Homo sapiens: one gene and its partners. The protein of the gene in region 4 purifies or fractionates together with the protein of the main gene of each other region. This does not show direct contact. Each region holds a gene or a part of one and is shown on either strand. Other genes may lie near its edges.

What was found. Proteins that work in one complex are often made in the same cells at the same time.
Region 1: the proteins of THOC1 (region 4) and NCBP3 purify together in Homo sapiens (co-immunoprecipitation; 4 studies listed by BioGRID and IntAct, with this or other methods). This does not show direct contact.
Region 2: the proteins of THOC1 (region 4) and SKAP1 purify together in Homo sapiens (co-immunoprecipitation; one large-scale study listed by IntAct). This does not show direct contact.
Region 3: the proteins of THOC1 (region 4) and RBM33 purify together in Homo sapiens (affinity purification with mass spectrometry; 2 studies listed by BioGRID and IntAct, with this or other methods). This does not show direct contact.

The regions. Positions count from the first base shown.
Region 1 is NC_000017.11:3,818,747-3,822,246, forward strand, and holds part of NCBP3 (nuclear cap-binding protein subunit 3), read right to left. Parts: intron 3,307-3,500; coding exon 3,207-3,306; intron 2,607-3,206; coding exon 2,503-2,606; intron 1-2,502. UniProt on the Homo sapiens protein: Associates with NCBP1/CBP80 to form an alternative cap-binding complex (CBC) which plays a key role in mRNA export. NCBP3 serves as adapter protein linking the capped RNAs (m7GpppG-capped RNA) to NCBP1/CBP80.
Region 2 is NC_000017.11:48,133,215-48,136,714, forward strand, and holds the end of SKAP1 (src kinase-associated phosphoprotein 1), read right to left. Parts: intron 603-3,500; 3' UTR 228-602; downstream 1-227. UniProt on the Homo sapiens protein: Positively regulates T-cell receptor signaling by enhancing the MAP kinase pathway. Required for optimal conjugation between T-cells and antigen-presenting cells by promoting the clustering of integrin ITGAL on the surface of T-cells.
Region 3 is NC_000007.14:155,651,161-155,654,660, reverse strand, and holds part of RBM33 (RNA-binding protein 33), read right to left. Parts: intron 1-3,500. UniProt on the Homo sapiens protein: RNA reader protein, which recognizes and binds specific RNAs, thereby regulating RNA metabolic processes, such as mRNA export, mRNA stability and/or translation.
Region 4 is NC_000018.10:219,548-223,047, forward strand, and holds part of THOC1 (THO complex subunit 1), read right to left. Parts: intron 1-3,500. UniProt on the Homo sapiens protein: Component of the THO subcomplex of the TREX complex which is thought to couple mRNA transcription, processing and nuclear export, and which specifically associates with spliced mRNA and not with unspliced pre-mRNA.

The DNA.
Region 1 (3,500 bases), on a different chromosome or scaffold from region 4:
GGCTAGGTAAAGTATGATGCAGCAGCCTAACCAAATACCATAAAGTCATTTAAAATACAACTGACCTTTATTATTCACAGATTTTGTATTTGCAAATTTACCAAATTTATTTGTAACTCCAAAATGAATACGTGCAATGCTTCCATGGTCATTTGCTGGCACGCACAGAGTGGCAAAAAAATCTGAGTCACCAGGCACACACACTCCCAGTGGAGGTCAAACAAAGCAACACTCCACCTTCCTGTTTCATCTCATGCTGTAAACAAGCGTCTGTTTCAGTCCACCGAGTGGCACATTTTTCACACTTCTGTGCCTGCTGCTAGTGATTTCACTGCTTAAAATGGCCCTGAGTGTCGTGCCGAAGTGCTGCCTAGTGTTCCTAGATGCAAGGGGGCTGTGATGTGCCTTGTGGAAAAATACCATATCAGGTAAGGCATTCAGGCATGAGTTATAGGGCTACTGGCTGTGAACTCAATGTTAACGAATCAACAATGTGTCTTAAATAAGGTGTCTTAAAGAGAAACATATGGGCCCAGCGCGGTGGCTCACGCCTGTAATCCCAGCACTTTGGGAGGCCGAGGTGGGCAGATCACGAGGTCAGGAAATCGAGACCATCCTGGCTAACATGCTAATACCCTGTCTCTACTAAAAAATACAACAAAAATTAGCCGGGCATGGTGGTGTGCGCTTGTAGTCCCAGCTACTCGGGAGGCTGAGGTAGGAGAATGGCGTGAACCCGGGAGGCGGAGGTTGCAGTGAGCCGAGATCGCGCCACTGCACTCCAGCCTGGGCAACAGAGCAAGACTCTGTCTCAAAAAAAAAAAAAAGAGAGAAACATATGTAAAACAAGGTTACATATTGATCAACTGACAAAAATGATGTGGCCAGAGGCTATGTACGATTCAGTATTTGCTACTTCAGTGTTCACAGTGACTTTATAGAACATAAGCACCATGAATAATGAAAATGGAAAAATACAATAAACGAAAGAAGTAGAATATAAAGTACATGTTCCCAAGAGTTATACTATTTATTATGAAAACAAATGGGAAAAATGTAAGATGAACTCAGTCATCATACAGGGTACTAGAAATAGGGGCAATTTGCTTTTTAATTTCCTTAATATGGATATAAAAAGTATATGATGAAAATATTTTAAAGTAACTCAAATTGGAAAAGTGTAACTGTGTAACAGTAAAGTATGTGTATTATTATTATTATTTTGAGACAAAGTCTTGCTCTGTCGCCCAGGTTGGAATACAGTGGCACAATCTTGGCTCACTGCAGCCTTGACCTTCCAGGCTCAGGCAATCTCAGCCTCCCAAGTAGCTGGGACCACAGGTATGTGCCATCATGCCTGGTCTGGCTAATTTTTTAATTTTTTGTAACGACAAGGTCTCACTATGTTGCCCAGGCTGGTCTCAAACTCCTGGTTTCAAGTGATCCTCCTGCCTTGGCCTCCCAAAGTGCTGGGATTATAGGTGTGAGCCACTGTTCCCATCCTATGTGTATTATTAACATGTAGATCTCAAATATACAATTTTGTATATACACATTAAATAAAACATCTAGACTTCATCCCTTTCTGTCCCCATTACAATGATAAATGTGTGTATATGTTATTTTGTATGCTGACTTGACTAGTTCTATTAGGCATGTAGAAGATTCCATAGATTAGGCTCAAAACAAGAACAATTCTTTATAAAACATAAATAAAATGGTTCTTTTACAATAAGCACCAAAAAAAGGAGAAAGAAACCCAAGTCATGATATCCCACTCTTCTGAGGCATTCACATGCACAAACCAACAAGCACAAAGCACTCAACACAGCAGCCTATTTTTAATACAGAAAAAGAACAATACAATCAGTTCATCTGATAAAATAATTTCAAAAATTGTTTTTGGCTAGGCGCGGTAGCTCACACCTGTAATCCCAGCACTCTGGGAGGCCAAAGTGGGTGGAACACAAGGTCAGGAGTTCGAGACCAGCCTGGCCAACATGGTGAAACCCCATCTCTACTAAAAATACAAAAGTTAGCTGGGCATGGTGGCGCATGCCTGTAGTCCCAGCTACTCGGGAGGCTAAGGCAGGAGAATTGCTTGAATCCAGGAGGCAGAGTTGCAGTGAGCCGAGATCAAGCAATTGCACTCCAGCCTGAGAGACAGAGCGAGACTCCGTCTTAAAAAAAAAAAAAAAATTGTTTTCATGCAGCTGTTGATATTAATAGTAGAAAAATTAGGATCCTAAGGAAAGTTTTGTTTTAATTTTTCCTATGTCATATTTTGCCTTTTTTGATAGAACAGCTTTTATAAAATCATTTGACCTCTTTGGGCAACTTAAAATTAATTGTGACTTGACTTACTTTCCTATATGTTGGCAGAGGGTGAGGGCAAGGAAGAGAGGATGATAAAGTTTGGAACCTTAAAAGATTGCATTAAGAATAAAAATATGATTTCAGGAGCCAAACATGTGTCTACCCAAGAGCTGAGCAGGCAACTACCAGAATGTCGATGTTTATACGACGTCAAGCCAACGTCATCCCCAATCAGGGCTCTCTTCTTGATCACGTCCCGCTGAATACGACGGGAATGATATCTTCGCTTCCTGCAAGAATGCCAAAATAAGCACACAATCAAAAACTGATAGGAAGGACCTTGAAATCCACTATTTCTTTCTCTTTTCTTTTTTTTTTGTGATGGAGTCTCAATCTCTCTCCCAGGCTGAAGTGCAATGGCACCATCTCAGCTCACTGCAACCTTTGCCTCTTGGGTTCAAGCAATTCTCCTGCCTCAGCCTCCCGAGTAGGTGGGATTACAGGCGCCCACCACCATGCATGGCTAATTTTTGTATTTTTAGTAGAGACGGGGTTTCACCATGTTGGCCAGGCTGGTCTCGAACTCCTGACCTCAGGTGATCTGCTGGCCTCGGCCTCCCAAAGTGCTGGGATTACAGGCGTGAGCCACCATGTCTGGGCTCGCTAATTCATTTCAACTACACGTTGACACAATGTTAGGTACTAACACAGATATTTTAAATGTAACTACAATTCAGCATTCCCCATCATTTACCACATCTAAGAATCTTGAATTCTTCCCTCTTGTTTTCCTTCCAGTTTACACAGGGTTTAGACATTTCACCACGGAATACCAACTGAAGGATTAAGAAAAACTCAAATACTATTGCATTTGAAGGTTTTGGACTCACCATGAATTGCTAAGAATTCCTTTCATGCCTCCATAATTTGGATTCCCATATTTCATGTAATACTGACTTCTTCTGGCTGCTCCAAGTTCCTTTTTGTCATCTAAAAATTAATGACAATAGTTACCTAGGATTTCCTGTGAGTGTAAAGACAATGTTGAATTTTTTTTTTAATGTTTTCCATAGCTGGAATCAGATCAGCGCAATTTGCCAACAAAAAGTAAAAATCCACTACCAACATTCACACTCTGAGTGCCCACTACAGCAATGCAGTGTAGAGGGGATAAAGCAAAATAC
Region 2 (3,500 bases), on a different chromosome or scaffold from region 4:
GGCAACAGAGCAAGACTCTGTCTCAGAAAAAAAAAAAAAGACAAAAAATAAACAATAGACGTGGATTCCAGAGAAGATTCTGCTCTGAAAGACAATTCCAAGTCTCCTTTTTTCTCTGGGCTTTTGTTTTCTCTCATGCTATCTCCACTTTATTGGGAGGTGGTAAAAATGCCCAGAGCTGACATATTGATATCATCTTACAAAAAGGAGCTCAACATCATCACACATGGCAAGGAACCACATCCCAAGTTTATTTGTGCTTTTCAAACCAGCCAGAACAACCAGTAATGTCCTCCTCCCAAGGTTTCCTTCTCTCTCACCTTCTTTGTGAAAAGCTTGTGGAAAAGGCAGATGTGGTTGTGTGGACACATTTAGAGATGGGGATGAGCTATGACTAGGCTGGTTTAGTAACAGGTTTGATGAACGTGCCTCTTCCCACTTGTCTTACTGGTAGCTTACAGTCACTCTGAGGTGTCAAGAGACTTGGGTCTCTTCAGCAAAGAGAGGAGTCCAAGGCGTTGGTGGGGTGGCAGAAGTAGGGAGTGGGAACTTTTGATGATCAGTTTCCTCATAAAGGCAGGAGAGAGGGAAGAATATATTTCCTAAAGGAGGAAAAATACATAAATTTGCTTTTGTGATTCAAAATATAGATGTATTAAAGGGCACAGAGTATAATGTTTTCCCCCTTACCCTGTCTCACAGTTTCTCTGTCCTTGGAGGCAACCATGTTATCATTTCATGTCTCCCTCCAGAAATATCCCATACAAATATAAACAAATAGGTATATATAGTCTCCAGTCCTTTTTTATACAAATGGGGCAAATTTGGCTCCCATTCTTTGCTGTTTTATTTTTTTTAAACTTACCAACATATTTCAGAATGTATTCCACACAGTTTCCCTTTCTTTTTTACTGTTGCATAATATTCACTTCTATGAATGTACTATAGTTATTTGACTAGTTCTCTGTTAAACATTTAGGTCATTTCCAAGTGTTTGCTATTACAATGAACCGTATGTGCCTGTCATTTTGCATATGTGCAAGTATAGCTGTAGGATAATTTCTATTTTTTTTTCTTTTTTTACCCAAACCAAAAATGGTCAATAGGATAAATTCTTTTTTTTAGATGGAGTCTTGCTCTGTTGCCCAGGCTGGAGTACAGTGGCTTGATCTCAGCTCACTGCAACCTCCGCCTCGTGGATTCAAGCAATTCTCCTGCCTCAGCCTCCTGAGTAGCCGGGTTACAGGCGCCCGCCACCACGCCTGGCTAATTTTTGTATTTTTAGTAGAGATGAGGTTCCACCATGTTGGTCAGGCTGGTCTCGAACTCCTGACCTCGTTATCTGCTCCCCTTGGCCTCCCAAAGTGCTGGGATTACAGGCGTGAGCCACTGCGCCTGGCCAGATAAATTCTTAGAAATAGATTTGTTGGGCCAAAGACAATGAAGAGATAAACAAATAAATGACAGAGTGAAAAGGGTGAATTTGTTTTTTATTTTTATTTATTTTTTTTGAGATGGAGTCTCTGTCACCCAGGCTAGAGTACAATGGCGCGATCTCGGCTCACTGCAACCTCCGCCTCCCAGGTTCAAGTGATTCTCCTGCCTCAGCTTCCCAAGTAGCTGGGATTACAGGTGCCCGCCACCATGCCTGGCTAATTTTTGTATTTTTAGTAGAGATGGGGTTTCACCATGTTGGTGAGGCCGGTCCCGAACTCCTGACCTCAAGTGATCCACCTGCCTTGGCCTTGAAAGTGCTGGGACTACAGGTGTAAGCCACCATGCCCGGCTGGCTGGATTTGTTTAGATTTGACAGAAAAATTCCAACCCTCTATACTTGTGGCCATGAAACAGTCTTCATCAGGAAAATCATAAAGTCAAACCTTGAGTGACAGGCCTGAGCTGGTGTTGTATGGTTGTACAAGGGCATTGGAGAATAAGATCTATCCTTATGTATTTTCCTAAATGAGTTCACTCAGCTGCTGCAGCACACTAGAGTGGGCTCTGGTCTGGACTCCAAGGAATGTTTGTATCACTGTCACACTGATGCCATTCTTTACCCCCAGCAGTGAAGACTGCTCCTATTTCAGGCCAGAAGATGGAGCTAGTGACAACATGCTGGTCTTGGGGGCCCTCCATCAGAATCTTAATTCTAACCAAAACCCACTCTGCACCAAAGTGGCTCCCACTATTACTCCACCCAAACCAGGCACCCACCCCCACTATTTTGAAACACAATGTGGTTCTTGCTAATACAACACAAACCTATTCTTTTTCTTTTTTTGAGACAGGATCTTGCTCTTTCACCCAGGCTGGCGTGCAGTGGTGCAGTCATGGCTCACTGTAATCTCAACCTCCTGGGCTCAAGCATTCCTCCCACCTTAGCCTCCCAAGTAGCTGGGCCTACAGACGTGCACCACCACACGTGGCTAATTTTTTAAAAAAAATTTTGTAGAGACCTTCTGCCCAGGCTGGTCTCAAACTCCTGATCTCAAGTGATCCTCCTGCCTTGGCCTCCTGAAGTGTTGGGATTACAGGTGTGAGCCACTGTGCCTGGCCCTGCAAACCATATTCTCTATTACTTAAAAGTTAATTTGATTATGTTCCATAGTTCCAATATTTCATATGTTCCAATATAAGGAATCCTCATATTGGATTCCTAATCTTGGTCAGTCATATTGCAATATGTGGGGATTTTGGGGAAATGGTGCCCTGGGTTTGAGAGCTGGGGATAAACCTAGATCCATCCCTGTGGCAAAAATTGCTAGTTTTATCCCAATATCCATTCTTCCCTTTGTATTTAATCATGAATCTCCCAATTCTAAGCTGGACACAGGGCTATAAGCTTTCTTTACAGCTTGCTGTGTCCATATATTCCAACTTCTGACCAATGGAATGTGAAAGGAAGTGTGTGCGCAACATCTGTGAAGTACCCTTAAAGGAAGAGGGTATGCTTTTCTCTCTCTTTTTTTTTTTTCTCAAGACAGTCTTGCTCTGTTGCCCAGGCTGGAGTGCAATGGCGTGATCTTGGCTCACTGCAACCTATGCCTCCCGGGTTCAAGCGATTCTCCTGCCTCAGCCTCCTGAGTAGCTAGGATTATAGGTGCACACCACCATGCCTGGCTAATTTTTTGTATTTTTAATAGAGATGGGATTTCACCATGTTGGCCAGGCTGGTCTTGAACTCCTGACCTCATGATCCGCCCGCCTCGGACTCCCAAAGTGCTGGGATTACAGGCGTGAGCCCCTGCGCCCGGCCTGACCTTCTCCTTTTATCTTTCCTGCTGTGCTGTGTAGGTTGCAGACAGGATGGCTGGAGATTGAGCATCTGTCTTGGCCTTGAGGTAACCTTGAGAATGTTGGGCACACAGAGAAGAACAAAAAGAAAAGGTACCTGGGACTGGATACCTTGGACCACTTACCTCTAGATTTTTGCAGAAGAGAAAAATACATTTCTGTGTTAATTTTTTTTTTTTTTTTTGAGACGGAGTCTCACTCTGTTG
Region 3 (3,500 bases), on a different chromosome or scaffold from region 4:
AATAACTGAGATGAAGGCTGAGAATAACTACATTTTTGTCAAGTAGATGGGCATTCCAGGGAAATAACAGCACAGAGGCTGAGTTCCACAAGCCTAGAGCACAGCAAGGAGTTCAGGTGAGTTGAAAGCACACTCATAGAGAGAAGTAGTCAGAAAGAAAAGGTGGTAAAGATTTGGGGCATTACTAGAAAAGCAACGTAAGAAATCTATACTTCATATGCAACACAGCCTCAGTTTAGGAAAGGTAATCTAGTAGCAAGAAGCAAGAACTAATTAATCGATAAAACATAAACAATGGTAAAACAAAGTAACTACAAACCAACCATTAAGAAAAAAAAATGTGGTTAGCATCACGGTGAAGAAACAGAAGGGAGAATAAGACAAATGCATGAACCAGAAACTGTCAATTTAGAAATTCCAAGGCATGTTGACTAACTGAATAGAACAAGGAAGGAGAAGTCAATGAAAACATCAGTATTTTGAATCTGGATTAGTTGTGGATTGATGGATATACGTGCTGGTTTATTTGAGGGTGGGGTAGAAGTTAATAAGTTTGGTTTTTAAAATGCTGCATGTGTATTATTACACTTCACTCAGCCATCTTTTGCAATATTTTTTAAAAGTTTGACTTGCTGACTGTACCAAATTGCACAATCATACTGCAATACCAACAACTCCATTCAATCCTAATACTAATCATCTGGAGTTCGGGCAGGCCCCACAGGTTAAGGGCTCAGTTTCACAAGGCTGCCCCACTTCAGATGCCAACTGCAATGAGGTGCCCAGGCTACTCACACTTCTCCCTGGCTGAAGTCTACAAATTCTGGGGTTATCACACCTCCCCCCATTGCTATTACTATAACAATTCACAGGACTCAGGAAAACACCGTACTTACTGTTACAGTTTATTATAAAGGATACAAATGAAGAGCCAGATGAAGAGGTACACAGGGCCAGTCTGAAGGGTCAGGGTGCACCACCCTCCCAGCACGAGGAGGTGCTCACCAACTCAGAAGCTCCCTAAACCTGATGATTAAATCACTGACTAATGGTGATTACCACCAATCTCCAGCCCCTCCCCTCGAGGGAGGCTGGGGGTTGAGCCTGAACGTTCTAACCCTCTTAACATGGGGTTAGTTTTTCTGACAAGCCCCCACCCCAAAGCTATCTAGGGCCCCCACCCCCGCTATAAGCCATCTCATTAGTGTAGAAAAGATAGTAAATTCAAAGGGTTTCCAAAGTTCTGCCGAGGGAACCTGGGCAGAAAAAAATATTCATTTTTTATCATACCACAGCATCCCCCAAAAGGGCATGTCCACCAGAACCTCAGAATGTGGCCTTATTTAGAAATAGAATCTATGCAGATGTAATTAGTTAAAATGAAGTCATTCTGGATTAAGACTGGCCCCTAAATCCAAGGACTGGCGTGGCAATTCCATTTCTGGGTATACACTCAAAAGAACTGAAAGCAGGCACTTGAAGACACATTAATATACTCAAGCTCCTATTAGTATTATTTACAATAACCAAAAGGTGGAAGCAACTCAAGTGTCTATTGAAGGATATATGGTTTAAAAAAAAATAGTATAGATATATAATGGAATATTATTTAGCCTTAAAAAGGAAGTTCTGACACATGCTACGACACTGATGAATCTTGAAGACATCATGCTAAGTGAAATAATGACTCAAAATCTTACAGGGCAAGCTAACACAAGAACCCTGTACAGCCTGTTTATATTCTTAATATATTCTGAGTCATTTCCCTCTGTTTTCCTTTAGAATACAAATACTTTTTAAAGTTCCAGTTCATAGCAGTCATATTAAACAGAACCAAGAAGAAAAAATGTGTCCCCATTAGTCCAGAACTTTAAAGGAAGAACAGCACATCCATGAAAGCCAAGGGGTAAAATATTAACTGAGCAAAACGAAAGAGGTCAATGACCTCCTTACCTGGAAAATCTCCTTCTAAGGCCTAAACATTGTACAAGACATTCTATTTTAATAGGGGGATCAATTTTCCTTCAAGACTGAAGATATCTACTAGATTTCTACAATTCTCTATCATGCAGCAATCAGACATCTACAGTTAACACAAACTTTTACTTACCATTCTATTTCTTCTTCTTTTCCAGAATCCTCGACTTGGATAAGATACCACATAGACTATTAGCTTGTGATAGGGTTCTAGCAATTATCTAATCTAAGGGTCAGCAAACCAAAGCCCATGGGCCAAGTAGGGCCTGCCACCTGTTTCTGCCCAAATTTAGCTACCACCCGTGTATGTAAATAAGCTTTTAATGGAACACAGCTATTCCAATTCAGGCATATATTGTCTATGGCTGCTTTCAAGGTAAACGGCGGAGTTCAGCACTTCCAACAAAACTCATCTGCCCTGCAAAGCCTAAAATATTTACTATCTGACCCTTTACAGAAAAAGTTTGCTGACCTTTGTATTCCAAAGGTTCTCAACCTTCTTTTTCCTCAATATCACACTCATGTATAATATGTTCCTAGTCCAAATCACTAATAGTCAAAATTCCTTATTTTATAGATGAGGAAATCCAGATCCTTTATTTAAATATTAACTACAAATCAGGTAATGTCCAATAACTTTCGAAGTGAACATATGAGCCTTACAGCATAACTAGTAAGTTCTGAATAGCCAAGCCAAATTTTCAGAAAGAGTTCCTACACCATGTTGCTTTAGAAATAATTTGTAGTCACTGTTTTAAAAATCTCCTATGTTACACGGGCCCCAGGAGAGGTTCTCCCTAAAATGAAGTTTTTATTTTGTTTATGAAGTGTAGTCCTCATTGGTCATTTGTTTGTCTTTCAACAAACTTTCATCATTCAGGGTTTAAAAATCAATCATAATAGAATTCCTGCTTGATATGAGATAGGACCCCTCCTATTATGGAAGTTATAAAGGCTTGCTCTATAAACTTGGGTAGCCGAGAAGAGGCAAGTGAGCTGAGCTCAGCCTACTGGATGTTCCCATCATGACTTAAAATCTATAGGAACTGACACTCATTTCTTTTCCCAGGAACCTAGACCCTTTTTTTTTTTTTTTTTTTTGGTGAGACAAAGAGTTTCCCTGTTGCCCAGGCTGGAGTGCAGTGGTGCGATCTCGGCTCACTACAACCTCCACCTCCTGGCCTAGCCATGAAGCCTTCTAAATGGCTGAGTTTAAGGGATGAAATGTCAAACAAAGAGGAGAAAATGTTGTTAAAAACTTCTAGAATGAAAAAAGGTCACATAAAAAATGATTAGGAATCAGAATGTCCTCAAACTTCTCAAGAGCAGATCTGGATGCCAGAAAACACAACAATACCGCCAAAAATCTTACAAAAATAAACTCAAATCTAAAATTCTGGACCCAACAAAACCACCAATCAAGTTGTGAAAATTAAAATTTCCTTCAGACTCAGGAGTCTCAATCTCAAAAAATTTACCTTCAACACACACACTCAAGAAGCTGTCGGCCAGGTGCAGTGGCT
Region 4 (3,500 bases):
TTACAGTTTTGATTACGTGGGAACTCCAGACTTTTAAGGAAGTAAAACCGTCAAAACTAAATTCAAAAAGGACAATAAATAAAGGGGATAGTCTAATACTAAATATTACATAGTATTTACTACATATAATATTATATACTTTAATTACACACTATAATATATAAATATGTTGCTATTCAAAGAGGGCAGCCAGGGTATTTTATAGCATTTGAATTTTACCAGCAAATAAACTTTTACATTAAGTCCCTATCCACGAATTATTTTTTCTTTAAACCAGAATTAAACCAAAACTAATAATCAGACCATAATACGATTTCAAGGGTTTAACCTTTAGCTCTTATTTAAATTGTTACCATGGTAGCATGGTTGATTTTTAAAATGCATCTTTCTTGAATTTGTTTTTAGAAATAAAATTTTGATACAGGGTCAAGCAAAGAAATGAGGTCTCAGGATCAGAAGACATCTTCTAGAGTAAAACTAGGAAAATGGGCTCTTTTAAGAAAACTATCCCAATATCCATTCATTTTCTAATGCTACAGATACTATATTCCATTTTATGAACATGCCCCAAGTTATCCATGTCCTACACAGAGATATTTGTCTTCCCACTCTTTGCTCTGACAATGTTAAATGAACATTCTTGCACCTGTCTCCTTGTAGATGAACTGATTTCTTTAGGCACTGGGCCTTCAAACTTCCACTGCAACCCACAATAAGAAATTCATTTTACACTGCAACCCAGTACACACATATATGCAAGTATATGTACAGATATATATAAGTAAAGCTAATGCTTCACAAAAGTATATTTCCTATTTCATTTAAAAAATGCTAGTTGAAATTACTAAATTGACTTTACAAACCACCAATGATTCTCAAACTTAGTTTTTAAAAACACTATTCTGATCAACACACCTACTAGTGGGGCACAGACATCTTTAACATTCAGATAGAGTGACTGTGCCATCAGACTCCTACCAGCAGCACTGGCAAATTATTTTTATCCATAATTCTTATAAAATCTGGGTATTTTTAAATTACTGAATCTCTTAGCTGGAAACTGCTTGCTGTAGTTTTTAACTGTACTTCCAGTTACTAGTGAAGTTCCCCGTCTTCTCAGAGGTTTATTAAGGTTTCTACTTCTGAATCTGACTATTCATTTGTACATTTTTCTACTGGGTTGATTCACTCTCACAGATTTGGCAGGAATCAATCATGTTAGAATTTTATCTATTTTTCCTGGTTTTTGTTTTTATTGATCTTCTCTTTTGATTTTGTTATCTTCTCTATTGTTTGTTGTCTATTTTACTGATTTCTAATCTTATTTTACTTTCTACTTCTATGAGTTTACTTTTCTTCTGAATGACTCTCAGTGTCAGACTCTTATTAGCTTGGTTTTTAGATTTCATTCTTTTTGAAAGTGTAAACACTTAAGGCTATACATTTCTCTTCTGTGTTCTACTGAGTTAGATCTCAAAAGTCTGAACATGTAGTGTTTTCATTATTATTTAGCTCTACATTTTCCAATTTCCATTATGACTTCTTTGATTCAAGGGTTATTTAGAAGTGTGTTTAAAGGAGTTGTAAGTATTTTTGCTTTTGCTATTCACACATAATTTACAAAAACTTGTGGTTTCTGTAAGACCAAGCCTGTTAATTATTTTGTTAAATTCTAAATGTATTACACTAAGTTTTTTCCACCAAATTTATTAAATTCTGAGAAAGGTCTGTCAAAATCCTACTAGATGGTAGGTTTTCTGGGTGGTGGTGGATGGTGAAAACTGACCCTGGGTCAACTTCTCATTCTAATTTTGTCAAATTTTTGAGAACACATTCTTAGAAAATAAAGTTTAAAATGTGTATATTTCTATTTTTTCCTTTTATCTTTATGCAATGATTGCCTTTATTTTTAATAATGCTTTCTGCTTTTAAGCCTTTTCTGCCTGATATCAATATAACTATGCCTTTTAAAAATTACGTCTTTTAAAAGTTCTTTCAGTTTCAACCTTTCCATATCTTTATTTTTAAGGTATATTTCTTATAAACATATAGATGGATCTTTTTTTTTTTTTTTTTTTTGAGACGGAGTCTCGCTCTGTCGCCCAGGCTGGAGTGCAGTGGTGCGATCTCGACTCACTGCAAGCTCCGCCTCCCAGGTTCACGCCATTCTCCTGCCTCAGCCTCCCAAGTAGCTGAGACTACAGGCGCCTGCCACCACACTTGGCTAATTTTTTGTATTTTTAGTAGAGACGGGGTTTCACCGTGTTAGCCACGATGGTCTCTATCTCCTGACCTCATGATCCGCCCGCCTTGGCCTCCCAAAGTGCTGGGATTACAGGTATGAGCCACCGCGCCTGGCCGATAGATCTTTAAAATATAACACCAATTTCTGTCTTTGAGCCAGAAAGTCCATTTCCATTTATATTTGAATTTAACCATACTGTTTTGTACTTTCTGTTGTGTTTTCTGTGCTTTTTTCCTCCTCTCCTACCTTCTAATTTACTTGCTTAAATTTTCTGTATTTACTTTTACCCCTCAATTTATTTAAAAATTACATATTCCATTTCTTTCACATACTTTACAAGCATGTTTGACTTAAACCATAACATTCTTTAATTCTGACCACCCCTTCTTGTCTTACATGTCACTTTTATCAAGTTTACCTTTTAAAATAACCCTAAATAATAATTATTACTATTTTATAACAGTGAATTCTTGATAAGATTTATTCAGATTTCTTCATGTTTACCAAAGTGTCTACACAGTAATCCTTTCTGCAATTTACTCCTTTCTGGGTTCAGTTTCCTTAAGACAGCTTTTTTACTGGGGACTGTTGATAATTTCTCATAGTTTTAGTCAATCACTCAACCACAACTGTTTAACTTGTTACAGAATTTTTTAGTTGAAATGTTGAAAAAGCAAGTAATACTTCTAGAAATGAGAAAATATAGTCATTGAATTTACAAAACGAGCAGGTTTAACAGCAGTCTGGACATAGGGAAAGTAAGAATTACTGGATTAATGATTAAGAAATCACCCAGAAAGCAATACAGAAGGAGCAAGAGTTGGAAACGATGAGTTAATGATAGTTGAGGAGGTCCAGCAAACATCTAATGGCAGAAAGAAATAATAGAGAATGTGAAAGACATTTTCAAGCACTCATCCCACTGTCTTCTGATTTTTGTTGTTCTTGAAGTCAACTGTTAGTTTAACTTTGCTCCTTTGTAGGTTGTCTGTTTTTTCTCTCTGGTGACTTTATTATCATGTACAGAGATATGGATTTATTTGGTTTATCCTCCTTAAGTATTATACTTCTTGAACCTATGAATTCATGCCTATTCTTAATAATTAACTCAATTATTGCCTCTTTCCCATTCTCTATTATTTCTTTCTGCCATCAGATGTTTGCTGGACCTCCTCAACTATCATTAAGTCATCGTTTCTAACTCTGCTCCTTCTGTATTGCTTTCTGGGTGATTTCTTAATCATTAATTAACCCA